Regions from separate parts of the Homo sapiens genome. Here region 2 is reported to be linked to region 1. The links are microRNA targets in miRTarBase. Many come from high-throughput screens and were not tested one by one. Region 1 holds a microRNA gene; the other region holds the end of a gene's coding sequence.
What was found. Region 1 holds the annotated microRNA hsa-miR-7853-5p (UCAAAUGCAGAUCCUGACUUC, at 4,898-4,918, shown strand). A microRNA usually pairs through its seed, bases 2 to 8, with sites in the 3' UTR of a target mRNA and lowers its output. Matches are read on the target gene's strand: a 7mer-m8 pairs with bases 2 to 8, a 7mer-A1 pairs with bases 2 to 7 and ends in A, and an 8mer does both.

Region 2: miRTarBase lists PLXNC1 as a target of hsa-miR-7853-5p. Seed matches in the 3' UTR shown: 7mer-m8 at 7,389-7,395.

The regions. Positions count from the first base shown.
Region 1 is chr6:6,167,298-6,174,297 of GRCh38, reverse strand. MIR7853 (microRNA 7853) reads left to right here and starts at 4,863; the gene lies at 4,863-4,994. F13A1 (coagulation factor XIII A chain) reads left to right here. Exons shown (of 15, transcript NM_000129.4): 13 at 6,680-6,840. MIR5683 (microRNA 5683) reads right to left here and starts at 4,964; the gene lies at 4,889-4,964. RefSeq lists an enhancer at 4,648-5,313.
Region 2 is chr12:94,298,433-94,315,332 of GRCh38, forward strand. It overlaps PLXNC1 (plexin C1), which reads left to right. Exons shown (of 31, transcript NM_005761.3): 27 at 200-363; 28 at 2,478-2,625; 29 at 5,324-5,464; 30 at 5,545-5,619; 31 at 6,749-9,243. The coding sequence ends at 6,853. It overlaps CEP83 (centrosomal protein 83), which reads right to left. Exons shown (of 17, transcript NM_016122.3): 15 at 14,482-14,585; 16 at 11,486-11,675; 17 at 9,266-10,485. The coding sequence ends at 10,381. Among named protein-coding and RNA genes, the nearest start is that of PLXNC1-AS1, 130 kb to the left of the region's middle. RefSeq lists an enhancer at 5,902-6,781 and a silencer at 7,396-7,495.

The DNA.
Region 1 (7,000 bases):
CTGCCTCAGCCTCCCGAGTAGCTGGGATTACAGGCACATGCCACCACGCCAGGCAAATTTTTGTATTTTTAGTAGAGACGGGATTTCACTATGTTGGCCAGGCTGATCTCAAACTCCTGACCTCAGGTGATCCACCCACCTCGGCCTGCCAAAGTGCTGGAATTATAGGCGTCAGCCACCGCACTCGGCCCAAAAGCCTCCACTTTCATCCTCACGTCTCATGCACAGAAGTGAACATTGAAAATTTCAAAGCCTAGAGCCCCATGAGTTGTGAGAATTAAATGTAACTTCTTGCTACTCAAAGTGTGGTCCATGAGCCAGCTGCATCAGCATTCCCCAGGAGTTTGAAAAAAATGTAGAATCTCATGTCCCACCCCACACCCTCTGAATCAAAATCCATGTTTTGACAAGATCCCAAGCAGACTGGAGTGTACAGGAGAGTTTGTGGAGCATGGATCTAAATGATCCATCTCAGAAACAGGCCCTCTGCTGGTGCCTCTCGCCCAAGTTAGGAAAGTCTTTTGGGGGCTGTCCAGAATGAATAGTGTGCTTTGCTTTCCCATTCAAAAAGATACACGCGCTGACATAGGCCGCTTCTTAAAACGCTGTCTCCTGTAATCTCAGCACTTTGGGAGGCTGAGGTTAGCGGATCACCTGAGGTTAGGAGTTCGAGACCAGCCTGACTAACATGGTGAAAACCCATCTCTACTAAAAATACAAAAATTAGCCCGGCGTGGTGGCAGGCACCTGTAGTCTCAGCTACTCAGGAGGCTGAGGCAGGAGAATTGCTCGAACCCGGGAGGCGGAGGTTGCAGTGAGCTGAGATCGTGCCACTGCCCTCCAGCCTGGGTGACTGAGCGATACTCCGTCTCAAAAAAAAAAAAAAAAGAAAAGAATGGAGGCTGGAAACAAAGCTGTGTCATCTAGGAGGGGCCTAGGAAGAGGTTTTCTGCCTCTGCCATCTCTTGTGGGGCCTCTTTCTCGTCCTTGCATGCACATCCTTCCAAGCATTTTCATCACTGTAAAAACTCAGAATATTTTAAGCAGATCAGGGTCCACGTGCTACAGCTTGCCTTGGGGATTACAATCTCAAAAAATCACATTTCCTAGGATGTTCGTATTTGGTGGGCACAACAGTTGACCACACGATGGGCAACACAAGTCCATTGGAAGAAACTGGTCTCTAGGCAGAGAATGAGTTAGAGCAGGTTGCAAAGGACCTCGATACTTTGGGGCACCAATTTCTGTTGGCCTGACATGGGGCACTGAAGAGAAAAGTGTACAAATAATAATTTTGACAAAGCAAAGGCAAGCAAAACTAATACGCTCCCCTGGGATGGTCAAGCCACAAGTCTGAATTGCTCTCAAGCTCTCTGGATTTTGTGGCTGTCACAGATCATGGTCCCCTTACTGAGGTTTTGGAAAATATTCCCAGAAAAATGAGAAACTATTTTTTAAAATCCTAATTCCAAGGAACTTACTCAAATTTGAAGGAAGCAAATCTCCCCAGCTTCAGTAATGGAGCTAACAATTAAGAAATCACTATAGTGGGGCCAGGCATGGTGGCTCATGCCTGTAATCCCAGCAGTTTGGGAGGCTGAGGCGGGTGGATCAACTGAGGTCAGGAGCTCGAGACCAGCCTGGCCAACATGGTGAAAGCTCATCTCTACTAAAAATACAAAAAATTAGCCAGGCGTTGTGGCAGGTGCCTGTAATCCCAGCTACTTGGGAGGCTAAGACAGGAGAATCACCTGAACTCAGGAGGTGGAGGTTGCAGTGAGCCAAGATCGTGCCACTGCACTCCAGCCTGGGGGACAGAGCAAGACTTCATCTCAAAAAAAAAAAACACTATAGTGTTTTCTTTGGAAACTAAAAGCTTTGGCACTTTTCCTATTCCTAGGGTAGTAAAGGTAATTTTCATGGAAAAGAATAGTCAGTGTAAAGGACTGAAGAGGACAACAGTCATGGGGATTGTTTAAAACAGGCAGCCACATTTGATTTCAGAGAGTTTTGCAAATAGACAATTCTGGATGTAAGCGATGACTGTGTCACCTACCAGCTGTGTTTCCTGAGCAAGGTACTTAAGCACTCTGAGCTGTCTCTCCTCATCTGCAAAGGGGAAAAACAGCACACACACCCCGGGGTTCTTGATTCATTCCCCTAACCTTTATTTAGTGCTTGCAAGTCCAGGTTCTGTTTTATGCTGGAGACACAGCAATGCCTATTCTTACTGAATTTCTGATCTCATGGGGGAACCAAACAAACAAGTGAATCTATAGTATAGTTATATGGGTAATAGAAAAATACAAAGCAGGTTAAGGAAAACGGGGAGTACCTGTGGAGATGGTCAGAAAAAAAACCCTCTCTAATGGGGTGACATTTAACAGAGACCTGAGTGAAGGTCAGAAGTGAGCATTCCAGCCAGAAGAAACTGTATGTGCAAAGGCCCTGGGGCCAGAGCATGTCTGATGTGTTCAATGAGCAGGAAGGAGCCAGAATCAGGAACAAAGGTGGCAAGGGGGCAGTGCTGGGTGCAGACCATATAAAGAATTGTAGGCCTTTATAAGGCCTTTGGTTTTTATTTTGAGTGAGCTGAGGAGCCTTTAGAGAGTTTTGAGCAGAAATGTGGCATAATCTAACTTAGGTTTTGAAAAGACCACTGGCTGCTGTGTTGAGAAGAGACTAAAGAGGAAGTAGGGCGGAAGGTTAGAGACTGGTAGGATGCTTCTGCAATCACTCCACTGAAAGGGGTTGATAGCAGTGATGGAAGCAGCGAGAACCAGTCCGATCTGGGCATGTGCTGAAGGTGGAGCCCGCCTGATTGGCTGAGAGACTGGATATGTGGTGTGAGAGAAGGAAGGTATGGAGGAAGCCAAATGAGTGATGAATGTGAAATGTGTGCCACATGGTAGAATCTTAGTAAATGGTAACTTCCAACATGTTTACATTTGGGGAAACTGAAGCTCGAGAGATGAGTCGATGTGTTCAAGCCCCCACACAGCAATGAGAGGCAAAGCAGATAATAGAGTAGACAGATAATAGCAGTGACAGTGAGCCAGTTCAGGGTAAACTTGGCCCCAAGTGGGCCAGGTCCCTTCCTTGTGCTCCCATTACCTGGAGTCTAGCACAGATCCTTAGACAAAGAACCAAATGCCAGCCCTTTTCCCACCTCACAAGTGTCCTGTCTCATAATCTCCTTCCCCTTCCCTCTTTAATCCAATTAAAGAATGAGCTTGTATGGGTGAGTAGAATGATATCATTCTCTCAGTCATCGACCTAGGGACAGCTGACCAAACCTATGCCTGAGTCCATAGGAACACATCTCCCATTCGCTTGGCCAGCCCCAGGTTGTCCTGAATAACTTGAAGGGAACTGGAGACTCTTTGTTCCTTTGCCCTGCAGGCAGGTGGTATTAACTGTGACCAATAAATTGTATATTGAAATATAAATTAAATTGCAGTGTATTGCAAAAAGCCACATAACTTCAGGCCTTGATCAAGCATTCTTAGATGCCTCTGCTGCAAAGAAAGCTTTCCAAGTAGAATGGGAGGCATACTTTCCAGATTGATGATTAAAGGGAATGTGTGTGCTGGAATCAGCTTGGGAGATCTGAATAACTTAAACCTCTCCGTACCTTCAAAGGTGCTATCATTTCCACTTGGCTATATTTAGTTTTCTTTGCTTTTTGGAAAAGAGATGAGGCAGCTCCAGTCTGTGTCTCCCTTGGCTTTCCCCAGACACCGTAAATGATATTGGCAGCATCCCAGCCCTACCGCTCATAGAGCGAAAACCTATTCCTCCTTCTCCTGCCACGTTTAATAAACTTTATCTAGAACAATTTCTTGTGCAGTGGCAAAACACAGCACTTACATAACATACTATTTCAGAAGCACTGTTCTCTTGGGCTCTGAAGCACAGCCTGGTTTCTTTAGTGCTATGATTTAGGGAGTGTTCTACCTCAGAGAAGAAAGGGGTCCTGATACTGAGATTATAAAGGTAGCAAGAGCCTCTGTAAAGAAATCATATCCCATTAGCCAAAAGAAATCCAGTGGTCAAACATAGTCCTCTAGAAATAGTCAGAAGAAGTCATTTTATTATTGTTATTACTGGAAACAGCTAGAGGCAAAAGGCATCTTCTTCGAGGCCTTCCACCTTGCCACTTCATCCATTCTATCTAGAGACACGATAAACTGACCATTTGTGCTCATCTGAGGCTGTAACCAATAGAGGGCCAGAACCTCACTCATCTAAACAATTAATTGCAAGGGGAGCCATGGAGGAAGCAGGGTCCAGGCTTAGGTCCAAAGACAGCAATACGAGAGCGGGTCATTCCAAAAGGCAGGACCTGGGGGCCAAGGTCAAGGCAAGGTCATAGCTTTAAAGAGTCAGCTCTAAATGGAATAGCTCTGCCCCAGGAATCAAGCCAACAAAGCTAGCTCTTTAGCGCTTGCCCAAAATAGGCCAATACATTCTAATAATCCACCTGCCCTATGCGGGGTTTCTTGGTTTCAGCACCATTGACATTATGGGCTGGATACTTTGTTGTGGGACTATCCTGTGCATTGTAGGATGTTTAACTGCATTTTTGGCCCCTATCCACCAGATTCCAGTAGTAACCCACCCTCCACCCCAGTTGTGACAATCAAAAAGTTCTCCAGACATTGCCAAATGTCCCCTGGGGATAACATTGCCTCCTATTGACAACTACTAGTCTAGGATGACCAACCTTTCTAGTTTTCCAGGGATTGATGGGGTTCTCAGGATGCAGGCCTTTCAATTTAAAACCCAGGTAGTTCTCAGTCCACCCTAACTCTGCCCTAACTTACCCCTTCTGCTGTTAGAACCTCCTGTCTCTCAGAGTATCTCACACTTCAATAGGCATTGTCTGGGGTCTTATTCAAATGCAGATCCTGACTTCACTGGTGCAGTAAGAAGTCAGAGAATCTGCATCTGTAACAAGCTCCCAGGTGATGATGGTGCTGCTGGTGTGCAGACCGCAGGAGGAACAGCAAAGACCTGGACTGGAAAGCCATCCCTTCCACTGGAACCCAGGCTGTCTGCAGGGCTGATTCTACAGGGATGCCCCTGGTTGTTGGAGTGGCCCTTCTCAACCCTGGCTGCACATCAGAGTCAGCTGCAGAGCTGTTAAAAATACAGATGTCTAGGTCCTCCAAGGCTCTGATTTAATTGGCCTGGAATGAGAGCCAGCTTGGTAGGTCTTTAAGGGTCCCCAGGTGATTGTGATATAGAGCCATGACTGAGAACTCTTCAATCAGAAGTCCTGGAAGCAAGGCACAGCACTTACGCATCTGTAAAGAGACTTCCAAATAGAAGTGCTGCCCAAGACAGAGGCTTTCCCAGCCTCTTGGTCTTCAAGGTCCAGAGCAAGCTGCTGCAGATCCATCGCAGGTGTGAGAGTTCCTCCACAGATGATGGGCATGGCTCAATGCACCCACACCTTCGAGCCAGTGGGGAGTCAGGGGCCCTGCCCTCTGCTCTGGTGCATGCCCATCCACAGGCACCCCACCCTGCTGCAAAACTGCTGTTCAGTACAGCAGGCTAAAATGAATTACCCTCTGTGCTCAAACTGTTGGCCATGAAGCTGTTTCCTTCAATAACTTCCACAGGAAGGGGAAGTCTTTGGCAAAAGCCAGAAACTGAGAAGGAAAGCAGTAAAGACATTCAGTTCTGTGAAGGTTCATAGAGTCTGTTCTCTGTGGCTGGGGATGGAGGAATGAGTCACCCATTCACCTGCGGAGTCTGCCAGCTGTCGGCACATACAGGCATCTGGCTCCAACCAGGTAGCAGTGGGTGCACACCTGGGCTCAGCCTACAGAAAAACTGCCCATTGCTCTCTAGAATCCTGGACAGTGGGAAATGGGAGTTAGAGAGAAAGTGAGCCAGAGCCACAAGATAGAACTCACCATCCTCAGCCCAGATGGTAATTGGAGGGGAGCCAGGACCACTCTCCATCTTCCAAATGCCATTCTCATTGGCTTGTCCCCAGGACCTAGAAATCTGACATCAGTGACTGGTTTCCATTGAGAAAACAATTGTTTGGCACAGAGGTCTTCTAAATCACAAACAGAGGTTCGGAGATAGTTGAATGCCTTTGGTAGAAACTGGTTTCAACAGCTTCCTTCTCTTAAATAGAAAAATCATATCAGATTGGAGAGAAAATGTGGAATGCTACAGAGAAAATGTGTAGGTAGTTGACAATTTAGTCTGAGTGTGGCCCATGGCCTAGGTGAGACACTTCTTATTTGACAAGGGATCCTATGTGGAATGGGGGCCTTGGACTTCAGCACCCCACATGTTCCATTTTGGGATGATCCCGGCCCAAATCAAAGCCACCATTAAAACCCATTGGTCCTTCTTTGCCATGAAAATCACATCTTTTCCATGGCATTTCTTTTACAACAGCAAAAGAACTGTTTGGAAGGTTTGACACATTTTCTCCAGTGAGACTTCAATGAATATTAAATTTCCAGCACATTCTTTACCTAAGAAGCAGGACAGCTTATCCCCAATTGACTCTTTGTTCCACTTGCCCCTTACCTTTGCTGTGTTCCTGGTGGCTTCCAGGCTAATGTGGGAGGGGTAGGGAAACTTGGAGAAAAGTAAAGCAGACCCTGTCTCAAGTCTTGATGCCAGGCCTGTGTGTGTTTTCTCCTACTAGTCAAGAAAGAGGCGGTGCTGATCCAAGCCGGCGAGTACATGGGTCAGCTGCTGGAACAAGCGTCCCTGCACTTCTTTGTCACAGCTCGCATCAATGAGACCAGGGATGTTCTGGCCAAGCAAAAGTCCACCGTGCTAACCATCCCTGAGATCATCATCAAGGTCAGTCTTAGCGTCTCATCCTGGAACAGAGACAAAGGCACGCAGACTTAGTGTTCATGTGTGCATATGCGTGCTTGTATGTGTGTGTGTGTGTGAATGAATGTCCTGCTCAAAAAAAAAAAAAAAAAAAAATACCAGTGCTAGGATCCTCTTGTTCTTT
Region 2 (16,900 bases), not on the chromosome of region 1:
CTGGGCATGGATTTTCAAGACTTTTGACCTATACTGTGAGCACTGGCCACATTTGACAATTTTACATTTTTCTCTTCAGTTTGTTTTTCCCTGTTTTGAACATTATTTTCTCTGAATGTGGATTTGCTTTTGCTATTATGTTTTCAAAACCACTACCACAGTTTTTAATCTCCCAAATCTGATGTTGTCTATCTTTCAGGTGGCAATTCATTCTGTGCTTGAAAAACTTTTTAGAAGCATTTGGAGTTTACCCAACAGCAGAGCTCCATTTGCTATAAAATACTTTTTTGACTTTTTGGACGCCCAGGCTGAAAACAAAAAAATCACAGATCCTGACGTCGTACATATTTGGAAAACAAACAGGTGGGAATGTAGGTGATTAGTGACTGTTTTCAAGAATCTGGGACAGAATATTAACTAAAAGAAAGACATAGATAGTTATAGAAGGATTCATTTATCTCTATATCAGAATCTTTGGGCTTGGTAAGCTATCATGTCAAAGTAGTTTCTTATTCTGTTACTATTTTTAAACAATAAAGGAAACCATTCCTATGCCAAGAATCCTGTTCTTGAAGATAAACTGTTATCTTTGGTGCATGATACTTTGTCTAGAATGTTAAAAGAAATTTAAGTTGACCAGTAAAGAATGAGAAATTAACATTTGTGGTTTTATATCATTTTTGCATTAGAGAAAATTTTATGATAAACCATTTTTTGTTCCTAATCGGTTACTTTGCAGTCTCCAAGCTGTCTATACTCTGATTCTGTACAGAAATTTATCAAGTGCAGTACTCAGATACTATGAGAATTAGCCAAAAGTTTGTGTTTTGTTTTATATTTTAATATTTTACCTTAAGGACAGGCAAGGCATCCAAATTTTGCCTCCTCAGTAAAGAAATGTAGCTCATGAGCTCTCTTTGAAATGCTGTGTGCATGGGCTGGATAAGACTCAGAGTTATGATGAAGTAGAACTTCTCAGTGCAAGCTCAAGGCTTTCCAGGCACTGAGGGCAGCCAGGTCACTTTAAATGAGTATCAAAAGCTGAAGTTCCTCTAGGTCTAATCTCCCATTTAATCCAGGCCTATCCCAATTCTCTACGCTGGCTTGCTCCCTTCTCTTCCTGTGTTCTAGCCTCTTTTTTTTTGAGACAGGGTCTCACTCTTGTTGCCCAGGCTGCAGTGCAGTGGTGGGATCTCGGTTCACTGCAACCTCTGCCTACTGGGCTCAAGCAATTCTCCCACCTCAGCTTCCCAAGTAGCTGGAATTACACGAGCATGCCACCGCACTCAGCTAACTTTTAAAACTTTTTGTGAGATGAGGTCTCACTACACTGCCCAGGCTGGTCTCAAACTCCTGGACTCAAGCCATCCTCCTGCTTCAGCCTACCAAAGTAGTGAGATTACAGGTGTGAGCCACTGCCCCTGGCCTGTTCTAGCCTCTTATCTCCAGTCCCTGCCACTCCCACATCAAGACTGGGAGCTGAGGGCCACCATTCCACCTTGAAGATTATGGCATCTGAGCAGGGGCAGCAGCCAGGACAGTAGAGCTGTTGGGAGACCTAGCAGCATATGGGGGAGGTAATGAGCTAGGCCAGAGTTGAAAAGGAGATAATGGAAGGACTTTGAACCAGTCCCAAGTTCATGTTCGGGTATTTGAGTACCTACTATGGGCCAAGCAGTTAGTTGCTGGAGATATAGTAACAAAACAGATGAAAGTCCAGGTCCCATTCTAATAGTTGGGGACAGACACTAAATGCAATATGCAAACAGTAGCACATTAGCAGATGATGAGTGCAGTGGAGAAAGTAGGAAAGGAGGCTAGTATGTGTCAGGACTAGGTGATCTGAGAAGGCCTCACAGAGATGGTGACACTTGAACCAAGTCTTGAAAGAGGAGAGGGCATAAACCATGAGACTACCTGAGGCAAGAAAGTTTCAGGCAGACAGACGCCAAGAGCACAAGTTGTGAGGCACGTGCTTGCTTGGCCCATATGAAAAATAGCAAGGAGAACAGGAGAGTTGGAATGAGCGCGGTGAGGAGCAGTGGGATAGGAGGGCCAGGTCATGCAGGGTGTTATCCAGAGGGAGATGGAGAGCCTCAGAGGGTTGGAGCAGAGGAGAGACATGGTCTGATTCTGTGTTGAGAGGACTGCTGATAGTTATGTGAGAACAAACTGTCAGGAGATGGGAAATAATCCAGGTGAGAGAGATTATAATCAAGAGCTATCTGGAGAAAATTCTTGCCCATGGCCACTTTCAAACTTACCCTCCTCTATCCTTCTTTTACAGTAGCTCTGCCAGTTAACCCTTTCTTCTTCTCTCCAAGTGACGCTTCTGTCTGTTGCTTGGTATGTTTGGCTAAGCAGAGTTGTATACTTCAATAACAAGGACAAAAACACCCGTTTACAAACTGTGATAAACAGACCATTGGCTTCATGAATGGCCCTATTTGAAAAGAGATTATTCTCTCTTTGAACAGCCTTCCTCTTCGCTTCTGGGTAAACATCCTGAAGAACCCTCAGTTTGTCTTTGACATTAAGAAGACACCACATATAGACGGCTGTTTGTCAGTGATTGCCCAGGCATTCATGGATGCATTTTCTCTCACAGAGCAGCAACTAGGGAAGGTAAGGCCCAGCTTGAGTATTTCTTGTATGCAGTCTTATGAGTTTGACATACTTGTCTTTCTGATAAGCATTCAAATAATAAACAATTGGTCTAAACTACACCAGCTAAAAAGAGATAGCAAGGGCCACTGTCAATTTGCTGTTATTTAAAATCTGTCTCATTATTTTTAATCTAATTTTTTTAAAGTGAAAAACAAAATAATTAGCCCCACCCAACTGCAGAATTCTGCCTGTGAAAAACTTTATCACAAAGTATGCGTTTTGTTTCCTAGAAAAATATTCTATGGACACTGATAAACTATTAACCCAAAATATGCAACCATTGAAATTTGCCTAAATCAATTCTATTTGAATATACATAAAATGCCTATTTGAATATAACACATTGCTTATGGGACACAAAATCTTGCTCAAGATTTCTAACAATACCAGTTTGTCAGTTTCTAATCAAAGCATGAGTACTGTTTTCCTATGGTTTTCTTTGCTGATCAATAGTCCCAAGAACTCAAAGAAAGACAAAAATCAGAGCAAACTTCGAAAGAGATGTTTTGGTCTTATTTGAGCGCTCCAAAATATACTAAACTGAGCAATATCTGTGCCTAATGGATCTTTGAACACTGAGGAGGAGTTCTTGGGCAGGACTTTAAGAGTACCTGGAATGAATGGAGACTGATGTTCCACAGGTGCCTCAGACTCCCAGTCATAATCTAAACTCTTTATCAGCAGTATTTCTGCAAAACAAACCTGTTTTTACTTTTGTCTTCCCTAGCATTGCCTAGTCTCTCAAGGTAGAATCCTCAACGTTATCTTTGACTCCTCTTCCTTCCAACCTCTATCCCCAAATTATTGGTTACCACTTACTTCTGTCTCAAATGTCTGTCGCTCCCTCCTCCTTCCTTAGCCTTATCACTTAGCCTTATCCCTTCATCCCGTCCCTACTGGGATAACTGCTTCCTAATTGGTGTCCTTGCCCCTGCTGTCCACCTTTCCTTCTAAACTTTTCCTTTTCACTGTCTCTCAGGTAATCTTTCTAAAACATAAATCTGATGATGTCAGTCTGCTTCTTAAAAATTGCAACTATTTCCCATTACCTACCAGCTAAAGTCTTCACAGTGCCACATAGTGCTTCCTGATGGGCTTCAGCCCTCTTTGCTGGCCTCGTTATTTTCTTGCACGCCCCACATACCCACTGTGCTACAGCTTTTACTTTTCCCAAGTTCACACCATGAACTTGTTCTCACACCCCTTTGCTCATCTTTCCTGTCTCACAGTCCCTCTGTCTAGTAAAATCCTACCCATTCATTCATCATAAACATTTTATTCATTCGACAAATATGATTTCCTAATGAGGACCAGAAACTGTAGGAGACTCAGATCAGTCTACATATGCCTACTTTGTGAACTTTCCCCAATATATTTCCTACAGCACTTTCTTCATTTGACTAATAAAGTTCATCTTAGCATGCAGCACACTGAAAGGCACTTAAATGTTTGTTCACACTAAAAACAGTTGTTTATGAATTATGTTCTTGACACACTTCACTTAATCCTCACAAGTACCAAATAAGGTAGTTATTATTACCCTCATTTTATAGATGAGAAAATTGATGTTCTGGGAGGTTACAAGTCTTGCCTGAAACCACACAAAGTAGCAGAATTATGATTTCTGATTTGTCCAACTCTTTCTGTCAACTACTGCTGCTAATTATTTGTATCATAGTAAGCACTTCATAAATCTGTCTTTGCAACTAGATTGTAAGCTTCTCAAGGGCAGCCACTAGTCTTTATCATTGTACTCTCAATGCCTGCTCCAGTGCTTAATAATGTTTATTGAATGAATGAATGATAGCATGATTTCTGGGTTCCACTTAAATTTGACAAATGAGAAAATCTCAATAATATCTCAGTCTCTAGGCATCCTTCAGAATGATTCATCAAGCCATTGATTCAGCCTCATGGGCTGGGACATTAGCCCTATCATTAACTTACCTATCTTCCCTGAGTAGAATTTTTTAAAGTTTTGTGAAAAATAATGATTTTTAAAAATAAAATCATATTTAATTTTTAAATATCACTGTTATAATTACGTAGAATCATTCAAATTGCCAGAGAACCTCTGCAAAATCACACATCAGAGCCACCAATACTAATGACCATGTGCTTCCCTGAAGAAACTGGATGATGTCTATAATCTAATGAAATAAAAGGGACAAGCTGGAAAATCTGCCTCTGCCAATTACTTACCAGTTTCATGGTTATATAAAGGGCTCAATCAGACCTACAATCAAGTCTTTTGTAAATGCCAAATTCACTGGTGGGTGAGGATGAGAGCAAATGTTTTAATTCAGGCTTTTTACAACCATTAGTAATGAACTATGATTGAAATAAGTTCCATTGTTACAGTAACTCAAAATCATGCAAAAATAATAATTTTAGTTCTTTTATGAGAGGAAGGCAGAATATATTAGCATTTAATCTGCCTGAAAATAACAGTGACTCACCAGAACTATCTAGATAGCAGTCAGTCATTCAGTCAACAACATTTAAGGCCTACTGCATGAAGCCTTGTTAGCAAGAGGTAAAACTGGTTGGTGGTGGGGGTTCAGCTACATTGGAATATTATAAATTCCTCCATCTTTTTTTTTTTTTTTTTTTACTCTTTTGGTGATGGTTGCTTTTTTTTTTTTTTTTTCCCCAGGAAGCACCAACTAATAAGCTTCTCTATGCCAAGGATATCCCAACCTACAAAGAAGAAGTAAAATCTTATTACAAAGCAATCAGGGATTTGCCTCCATTGTCATCCTCAGAAATGGAAGAATTTTTAACTCAGGAATCTAAGGTATCATTAGAAAGCAGAAATAAGCTTATATTTGGTTACTTTACGTCATTTCAGAATCTCTCAACAAGTCTTTCTTTTAGAAACATGAAAATGAATTTAATGAAGAAGTGGCCTTGACAGAAATTTACAAATACATCGTAAAATATTTTGATGAGGTAAGATTTTAAATAACATTGTTTTTAACCTTTGAATCAGGCACAAGGATGTGGTTATAGCATTCTGTCAGTTTCAGAACAGCTCTGGCATCCCAAAAGGCCAGAAAGGGAAGCCAGGAAGCCTGTCTGAGATGGGGGATCCTGGCACTGAGCCAGACCCTGTACATGGCTGCCCCCCTTACAGTTTTATCATGCTGCCCACATTTGGACCAGCCTGAATTTACATTTGAGTTCATGGGGCCTACAGCCACCCTGACTCAAGTTAACTTTGATGAGTAAGTAGTGGCCCTATTAAATGGGGTCAGCTTATGCTTGATTGTAATTTGCTAAAAATGAAAGCTAAGCTTGTTAAATTGCCTAGATTCTGTATTCAATCGTTATATGAAATTATGACATATTTCTAACTTAAGCGACTATTTCAATAAACCATTCTCCTTTATGATTAATTCTCCTTAATCTGGGTTTTTTTCTTTGGAAATTCAAACAGACACATTCATCAGATGCTTTGTTTCCAAACAAATGTTAACTCCCCCTTCCCTGATTCCCCCCCAATCATGCTGGGACAGGCTATCCATGTCAATGGTGAGAATAGCTCACCAATTCCATTTGCTACTTGAAGATGAAGTGAAGCTCTAAGGTAGGGTAGAGGCAATGAGTTCTTAAACATGATAAGCATCCCTCGTTCCAGGGGTCAGGGGAGAGAAGGGAAGCACGAGGAGGGACTACACTGCCCAGATGGGAGGGAAGGGAAGGATCTGTCTCTGACCAGGATGTCCCTGCCTGCTGCATTTAAGGAGAAATACTTGCCTGCATGTTGGCTGCCCAGGAATGCTTGCTGTGCTTGGAATGGCTGTGACATAATGCATAAAGCAGGGCCTAGGAAGCCTGGCCCCATATTTGTAAGCAAATAGTTGGTATTTCTTGCGAGCTTCTATTTTAAGCCAAGGTATTGTTGATCCTGTGATAAGGACTTAGCAAAACAACTTGCAAAGTGAGTATGTAAATGATGGAAGAAAATGTTGGCATCTGTTTCATACAGATTTTACCACTCACAGCATCAGGTATGCAAAAAACAGAATTGTAACGCTAAAACCACAATATCTAAAATAACTGTTCTAATTGTCAACAGATTCTAAATAAACTAGAAAGAGAACGAGGGCTGGAAGAAGCTCAGAAACAACTCTTGCATGTAAAAGTCTTATTTGATGAAAAGAAGAAATGCAAGTGGATGTAAGCACTCTGGGGCCTGGCTTAATCTGGCAAAGTTCTTCAGACGACTTGGGAGCAAAATGGCTGCTTGAGCTACTCTGTGTCGTTAATTTGTTGTTTGCACATAGGTTCCACTTTGGGCACTGTCTTTTTAAGAGACCAAGGCACATGCACAGCTTTTAGAAAGCATACCAACCCTTGTGCCTGTGTGTATACCGTGGGAACCCTTCTGTAAATAGAGTTGAAGTGGTTGTTGCAAACAGCCTCCTTGTTTACAGAGAATACAAGGCCAGTAAGCGAATGTCAGTATTGTAACTACAGTCTCCACTTAAGCACAATGATATAAGTGGTTTTGTTTGAAAACTACAGCTATGTAGCACTTGTGCTACACTGCACCTCTGCATTGTAAAGGGATACTGCCAGTGCTCAAAACAAAATGTGAAATGAGTCATTTGGAAACAAGGTGGGGGTGTTAGGGCAACCTCGAGGATTTGCAGCATTGAAACTTTCCCCAGTAGTTCTTGGAAAAGCTGACCGCAGAATTTGGTAGTGTACACTTAGCATTTGTGAGTGTGTGTGTGTGTTTAAACCAAAAACTAACAGTGTTGCAACATTGTTGAAAGGGCTCGTGTTTTTCAGTGGTCATCAACTGCACTCCATCAAACTCACCTCCATTTCACCAAGGAGCTCTAAAGTAAGGAGAGTGGGCTTTATTTAAATGAACAGCATTTTAACCAGATACTTTGTCCTAATGTATGTTCCTTTTCTTCATCTGTTTTTTCATACTAAATGTATTTGATAGTGGACATGTTGGATATTATACAAAAAAATCATTAATTCATTTCTGTTCCAAAACCTTTGATCAGAACGATCTGTGGAAGAGTAACTCCATTTCTATATGAGTGAGTGTCTCCTTGCTTTAGATTTCTGGTGAACCCTGTGGTTATGAATACTTGTGTGTGATTTAAAAAAAAAAAGATACATTTTACATTTTATCGAATTGCTGTTCACACTGGAGTATTATATATAAATATATATATTTGAGGCCCAAGGCCTGAAAAATATTAGTATACAACTTGGTATCTTAGTCTTACTATGTACTTTTTGAAAGTATTCCTCGCAGGAGAAAGAATTTAAAATACCCATTTTATTCATGCCTTTCTTTTTAAAGAATTCTCTATCCAGTTATACTGTAGTCTTTTTAGTGCTGATTTTTTAATTCCTGAATTTTTGCTGCTCATGACCAGTTTTAATACCACTGTGTTTTCCTTCTATTAAACCAGAAGAAGTAAACAGCATAATTGGCAACTCTTGAGCTTTTCTTGTGGCAGGCACCTTTTACCCTTGGTGCTCCAAATCCCCCATCTAGGAAAGAAAATTTTTTCAAGTCAAATAACATTGATCACATATTCCTTGAAATCATTTACCAACACTGTATGGAGCATTAGGATTTAAATATGAATTTGTCTTAAAGGCAATTCCTTTTTGCTTCTGTATTATCTGGAAAAGCATGAGAGAGGTGACACCTCAACAAACTGATCAGAGAAAATAAGCAGTTACTACCCTGATAGGCACCTTCCCAATCCTGTTGCTTTTGACCATTGTCTGTCCAACGGACACACCTCAAACAAACAAAACTACCAAATAGATGACAGATCAGAATAAAGGTGAGAGGTCTGGTCCCCATTGAAGGCTGCTACAGTCTTCAAAGAGGTGAAGGAGTTCATAAGAGAACAACAGTAGGAAAGTTGAGAGCCAAGGGTAGGAGAGTTGCCCAAAAGACTTCCCCTACTACTTTAGGGTACTGAAAACTCAAAGGATCAGCTACAGCTTTATCTAAGTATTTACTAAATGCTACATGAGGGTGTCCCTGTCCAGCTTTCTGGCACATGAGTCCTGTGTGGAGAGTTACCTCCTCTTCCAGGGACTGTGCTGTTGGGAACTTTGGGCAAGTCACTTACCTCTTTGTGCCTCAATTTCTGTATAATATTTCTAAGCTACCTCACTGAGGTGGTATGAAGATTCACTAATGTATGTAGCGTGTTTGTCAATCCTCCAGTGAAAAGCACTATCTAGATCACATTTTGGATCACATTAGCCAAATGCAGTAAATGGCCAAATTAGATGTGTGCTGAAGACAATCAGTCACTGGGTCTATATTAAACAGCAACCAGAGCAACAAATGGCAAACAATTTCTATTTTCAAGTTTCTTTGCATATTTTTTTGGTGCAAAACCATTTATAAACTTTTTTTTCTAACACTAGTGTCTACAGCAGCATTCAAAAAAATTCTGTTACCTTTTCTGTATTAGGATTTAAAGTCTATTTCTTATTGTATACCTGATTGAAGCTGTTCTTGGAGATGAATGTTTTAAATGTCTATATCCAAAAAATAAACATTTTGATGTAACTGTGGACTGTCTTTTTTTTTTTTCAATTTTCTAGTTATAATAGTTTTTTTATTCTAAGTGGCTCCGTGGAAATTATTTTTCAGAGATAAGGTGTCACTGTATATGCTGTGAATAAGCAGCTATATTATGTAGTAAGTAAACCTAGTTTGCTAAATGGTGCTAAGGACTGCTCAATTACAGTCCTGGCCTTCTTCACTATCAACTGGGACTTTTGACTATGAACACCTTGGGATAATGAACATTCCACTTAATTTGGGAGACTTGAGCTTTAGCCTCGTTAACATGAAATTATTCCAGCAGAATTCCTCTAAAAGATGTCACATTAAAAAGGCTTCCAATGGGTGTAGACCAAAAAAAATGAGAGCATACTTAGGGACACAAAACACATAATTATTTGGTTAGATCCACAGTAATGGGAAGTAAAGTTAAATACCAACAATGTTTATAAAAGGACCTGAGTTCAAGTTTTATAATCAATGGCCCCCTTGTTAATACAGCCATAGGATTTAATTATTTGCACTTATTCTCTATTCTAACAAAGCCAAAATCAGTAGACTGTCATATTGCTAAATATATGCTATATGGTTGATGTAAAATTAAACACACGATTAAAAAAAAATTAAGCTCTTTAATTATGTGCACACAGATTTTAGAAAAGGTAGCCTTTTGTATATAGATACCTTTACATTCTTTAGGCTGACTTTTAAATTGTCATCTTTTTTCAACTACAGTTTTTGTATATAGTAAACCAGAAGATGTGTATGGACCCTGTTATGGCCAAGCATCTCAAAGATGAAGAGAGAATTAATGATAGTTATATTTCACTCAAAATGCCAAAAAAAAAAATTCAACAAAGTAAAAATTTTAAAACTTGACTCTAACTAGTTCCTTTTTGTTTTACATTCTCAAACCATTGTCAAATATTCTAAATATCTCTGAGAATTTCTCTTTTAATGCTTCACTTGTATAATCTTAAAATCCTGACAGTCATACAATACAGCATGTAGTAGGTACCTTTTCTTGAGGCACATTCAAGTGTTTTGGCAAACAGTAAAAAGTATCTAAATGCCACAGGTTAAAATGTCAAGTTTTACTGAGTCACCAACTTCACCTCTTTTGATCTGCCTGTTCTCCAAGAACATCATTCTCCGGAAGATCCAAGTTCCTCTAGTTGTTTTCTTTGTGTTGTTTCCAGTTCTTCTAGTCTTTTGCGAAGTAGAGAGAGTTCCCTTTGATGTTGTTCCTCCTTAAAATGATGTAGAGAAAGCATAGCAAAAGAAACTATTAGAAAAACTGTTAGGTAGCAACCTTGGACTGCCTCTTTTATATATGCCTATAACATCTGGCAAGGAAATGCTGACCACTGTAGCAGTCTAAAAACAGTAGCATGGGCTAAACTACCATCTAGTTTTGCTTCTCTCCTGCCTCAGGCTCTAGCCTTAAGCAAAACCCGTAGTCTGTTCTTCTCTAGGTATAAAATTCACCAGGGAGTGAATTAGAAAATACTAATGCAGGGCCCAGGTATACTTACATGGTAACTTTCCAACAACACTGGTGTTTAACAGCAGTTTATTATAAACAAAGCACTTGGCCTGAGATTCAATTCAGTGATTAAAATCTTCTGTGCTTATGTTATAAAACATAATTACTTATTAATACTCCCATCTTCTGAAAAAGAATCAATCTGATTCCTTCAATACCTCAGGGGCTTGATACAATAGAAAGAGCCCGGGTTTTGGATTCAACAGGTTTAGGTTTGAAACTTTGTCACTTATTAGCTATGACCTTATGCAAGTCACTTCACTCTGAATCAGTTTCCTTATCTATGAATTAGGAATAGTAATATCTGCCCTCAAAGCATTTTTCGTTAGTATTAGACATTGCACGGAACATGCACAGTTCACTGCGTTAGTAAATTCTCAGTAGTAATTACTATTAACATTATGAATAAGCTACAAACTCTAGGTTACTCAATGACTCAATCAAGTTTCCTCTTTTCTATCGTCCAGTAAGAGATTTCACTCTCAGCACCAACACTAAAGGATCATGATTCAAACTGAATTCAGCAAATTTCTATGCTAAATGAAAGGGAAGAAGTTAAAAGTAGTTTTAAATGTTTATGCCATTTTTGTGGTGAATTTTGAGCACTGACCAAAGTTATAATTTGAGTTTTATCACCATATTTAAACATAAAAACCTACAAAAATGTACGACTTTTTTTTTCCCCCTAAAATAAATGCTCATACCTGCATATGAGGAGGAAATGGTAGTTCCATGCTTGGAACCATGGCTGATGACTGAAAGCTAACAGGATTGATAGATGCTGTTGGAGGCATGTTAGGAACCAAAATTAGACTTCGAAATTCATTATGTCTTCTCTGTATATCTTTTAGTCTTTTTTGAAGCCTTGTATAGTCTTCAAAAGGAACATTTTGTCTTAAAAAGAAAAAGAAATGTTTCTTTAACATGGTTATACCCTATTGAAGCACAGTATGATTCACAGAATATAATTTTAAACTGGAATTTCTAAATTATGAGATCTATATATAATATATAGATAAAAAATCTGTTTACCTAGAAAGATAAACAGAAACATGACATAACATCTTAATCATTAGCAATCATTAGCATTGCAGACTATCAACTCATTATAAAGTTTTATTTGCTAATTAAAGATCTAAAATCTTTTGATACTTTGGTACTCACTCCTACCCTCCTACTCACCCCCATTCATGAATCCTGAAACTAAAGGGAGACTCTAAACCAAAAGAGTGCCTTATCTTACAGAAAGAATCAAATAAAAATACAGTTCATCCCTCAGTATACACATGGGATTAGTTCCAGGACATCCCTCATATATCAAAGCCTGTGCATACAAGTCCTGCAGTCAGCCCTGCAGAACCCTCATAATGGAAAAGTTGGTTCTCTGAACTGGTGGGTTTCACATCCTGTGAATACTATATTTTCTATCCATGTTTGCCCGAATAAAAATCTGTATATAAGTAGACCCATGCAGTTCAAGCCCATGTTGTCAAGGGTCAAGTGTAAAGAAAATGCTGGATTGAAGCTTACAAAATTGCCATTTTTAAATAGGTGAAATATGGTCAAATATAGAGATTTTCATAGTTCAATCTAATTTTCAAAATGTCAGTGTAATATTTTAGTAAGAAATATATATTTGGTCTTTGCCCTTGGTTCCTGGCACACAGCTCCTAAAACTCTGGGAAACTCTGAAGTGATAAGAGTATCTTTTGTATATTAATAAGATAACTGGTGGCTGGGGGCCCCTGAATAGCTTCAGGATGGGGCAGGTCACCAGAAAGACTGAGGCATGATTAGAGGGTTGGAACTTTCAGCCCCACTCTCCAACCCCACCCCATGACATCTGGGAAGGTAAAGGACTAAAGGTTGAGTTGATCACCAATGGCCAATGATGTAATCAATCATGCCTATGTAATGAAGCCTCCATAAAAACCCAAAAGCATGGGGTCAGAGAGCTTCTGGGTTGCTGAACATGTGCAGGTGTCTGCAGGGAGGCATGCCCAGAGAGGGCATGGAAACTCCACACCCCCTTCCTCATAACTTTTCCTATGTATCTCTTTCATCTGACTGCTCATCTATATATTTTGTAATATCCTTTCTAGTAAGCTGGTTAACATAAGTTTCCCTGAGTTCTGTAAGCTGCTCTAGCAAATTAACTGAACATGATGAGCAGGTCATGGGAACCCCAATTTATGGCCATTTTTAGCCAGTCAGAAGCACGGGTTACAACTTGGGGCTTATGGCTGCATTCTGAAGTGGGGGGCAGTCTTGTGGGACTGAGCCCTCTACCTGTGGGATCTGATGCTAAATCCAGGTAGACAGGATCAGACCTGAATTACAGGACACCTAGCTCGTGTCCACTGGAAAACTGATTACTCCATGTATAGGAAAAAACCCCAAACATCTGGTGTCAGAAATGTTGTGTTGACTGTGTGAGAATAGGAAAAACACTGGTTTTTCCTATTATAAAAGGTAATCACAAAGGTGAAGCTACACAACTTTAGGAAAAAATGACATGGAGAAAAAGGCTAACTTTCCAGGCCTTCACAGATCATCATCTTTTTGGACACGACATCCAGTAATCAAATATAATTTCAAAATCACTCAAAATTCTAGATGATCTGCACCACAACTGGCCAATCTTGAATTGCTAACATTTCAATATTAATGTTTATGGAAGAGGAAGTAAGTTGAATTCTGTTTTAGAAGGACTGAGCCAGGAATGGTGGCTCATGCTTGTAATCCCAGTGCTTTGGGAGGCTGAGGCAGGAGAATAGATTAAGCCTAGGGGTTCGAGGCTACAGTTAGCTATGATCGTGCCACTGCACTCCACCCTGAACCATAGACGAAGACCCCATGTTTAAAAAAAAAAAGAATTGAAACAAAATTCAAAATTACAAGCATGTTTGTAATTTACAAATTACTACCAAATTAATAAACTAAAGGCGGCCTCCTACTTTGGAATAGAGTATTGTAAGGCTGGCACTAATTCTACAGTCTAGAAACTTCTAGAATGTTCTTTAAAAAACAATTGTTCACCTGTTGGTAATAATTGCACCCAAGAACACCAGTGCACATCATAAAACGTCACTGCATGATATTATAGGCAGTTTCCATTACAGAAAAATCTATACTTGAATAGCCAAGGCGCTGAAGGCTACCACTAATTCACTAAATTAAAAAGATTTTTCTTAACTTGAATCAAATGTGTCATATAATGCCACTACCAACAACTTAATATGACAAATCTCTGCTTTAAAAATGCTGATGATCCTGATTATCAGATGTGCTTGAATGTGACTGCAAAACCCGAAACTACAGCTCAATAAAATCTCCACACCAGGAAACCAAAACTGACCTTTGATTCAAAGTTGTAGGCACAATTTTCAGAACTATGCAATAGCTACAACTGTCTTGTACAGCAGCAACAACTAACACCACTCCTTGCTACCAAAGCCAGTGACATTTTCTGTTAGTCCCAATCATAAGGCAAACACCTGGTATGTGACAGAGACCTTTTGGTTTAAAGAAACATTCAGTTAGGGGGTAAAAAAAGGATAGTACATTAGGAGTTATCAAGCTGTTTTAGAAATCTTTAAAATGTATATTTTAAAAGAAAAGAAGGTACGTTATACTTAGAGACAAAGTTCTATGACATCAAAATAACCACATGGGGAAGATACACATACAAACACATTACCTATTTAAGACCTGATTTTCTGTTTCCAATTCTTCTTTCTTTGCCTCCAAGACTTCTACTTTCTCTTGTAGTCTTTTCAATTTGTTTTCATGAAGAGATTTTCTCTAAAAAGAGAAATATGAACAAGTATGTTAATACATAATCTCTTATTTGAACAAAACTATATAGAAAATATTTTACTCACCAAAAACTGTGTTTAGATATGAATGTTTTCAGTGAATACTAGAAACAAAGGTTAGTAGACATGGCTCTTACTGAAAATTGCAAAGATAATAAACCACAAATCTATCTAATATTCTCAATGTGACAATTAATTATGAATGCCAAACAAAAAAACTGTTATCAATAATTGCTGCAAAAAAAAAATCTACAAAGGGAAGGAGTCAAATTTTACTACTGAGTCTGCCTGTACATCTGGTAAGAAATAATGAGCTCTCCATTGTTCCAGAAGATAGCATGTGTTTAAGAGAACTGAGCCAGGTACAGTGGCTCATGCCTGTAATCCCAGTGCTTTGGGAGGCTGAGGCAGGAGGATGGATTAAGCCTAGGAGTTCAAGGCTACAGTTAGCTATGACTGTGCCACTCCACCCTGGACAACAGATCAAGAACCCATTAAAAAAAAAAAAAAAAAAAAAGGGTGGGGAGCCAGGCACAGTGGCTCACGCCTATAATCCCAGCACTTTGGGAGGCCGAGGCGGACAGATCACAAGGTCAAGAGATTGAGACCATCCTGACCAACATGGTAAAACCCCATCTCTACTAAAAATATAAAAATTAGCTGGGCGTGGTGGCGGGTGCCTGTAGTTCCAGCTACTCAGGAGGCTGAGGCAGGAGAATCACTTGAACCTGGGAGGCGGAGGTTGCAGTGAGCCGAGATTGCACCACTGCACTCCAGCCTGGCAAAAAAGCAAGACTCTGTCTCAAAAAAGGAAAAGAAAAGAACTGAAGTAAAATTCAAAATTACAAGCACGTTTGTAAGTTATAAAGTACTACCAAATTAATAAAACTGAAGGATCAGAAAGCTAAGATAAATATGGATGCATCTGTTTAAAAGTTGCCTTTCTAAATCTTAAAAGGAAAAAATTTAAACTTTACAATATACAAAGGGAGAAATTCCTAAGTAAATCTTGTATGGTTTCATTAAACAATACGGAAAAGTCCAGGTAAAATGCAAAAGGAGTGTATGGAAAAAAGTAGTATTTTTTTTCAGTTTTTATACACAGGCCTTTTGTTTTTTAATAGAAAAACACCTAAAATGTTAAAACTCATTTAGTCGCTACAAACCTTTTAGGTATTTTCTAACTCTTTTTTAACTGAAGTATAATCTTACAGCAAAATGCATAGAATAGAAACGTAAAGCTCAAAGAAAAACCACAAAACAAATGCTGGCATGATTTCCTTGTAGGTCAAGAGCACTGCCATGCCAGAAGGGCCCCTACCTTTCCCCCTTCCAATCACTAGCCCTGTCATCCTCTGAAAGGGTAACCAACTAATTTACTTCCAAAACTATAGTTTACTTTTGCCTATTTTTGAACCTCATATACATACAATCATAGTATGTAGTCTTTTATTAATGACTTTATTTCACTCAACATTGTTAGTGAGATTTATGTTACTTACAGATATACTTCATTCATTCCCACATATTATATTCCACTTACGATTATTGCATAACCTAGTATATTCACTCAGTACACCGTTAAGGGTTATCTGCATTATTTCCAGTTGGGACTATTACAAATAACTCTGCTACGAGCATTCATTCTCATGCTTTGATTGTCCCACATCCTCCAACATCTCAGAAGGCTTCCTTATGCTCCTGTCTACCCTGGCAAAGGAACCACTCTTCTGGTTTTTATCACCATAAGTATTTATTTATGAATTTATAGGCAGTTAAGGAGTCCATCTGTCTATCCATCCACCCATTCATATGAAAGAAATCATAAATTTATGCTCTTTTGTATCTGGACTTTTTTCTCAACATTTTATCTATATGACTAAGCCATGGTTATGTATTGTCACAGTACTTCTTTTTCATTGCAATGTTGTCATTCATTGTACAAATATACCACATTTTATACATTTTCCTGTTAATGAAAATTTAAATTCTTTCCAGTCTGGGGATATCATAAATATTTTACGAACATTCCTAAACATGTTTTTCGCAGATTAAGTACCTCATTCTCTTCAGTATATACCTATGAATGGGTCATAGTGTATACATGTTTTAGCTTTAGTAGATACTGCCAGTTTTCTAAAGCAGTTTTACCAATTACATTTCCACCAGCAATATGTGAGAGTTCTAGCTGTTCTACATTTTTGCCAGTACTTGGTATGGTCGGTCTTTTAGCTTTTGCATCCTGTTTTGGTGAAATACAGTATCTCACTGTAGTTTTAATTTACATTTTCCTGATAGCTA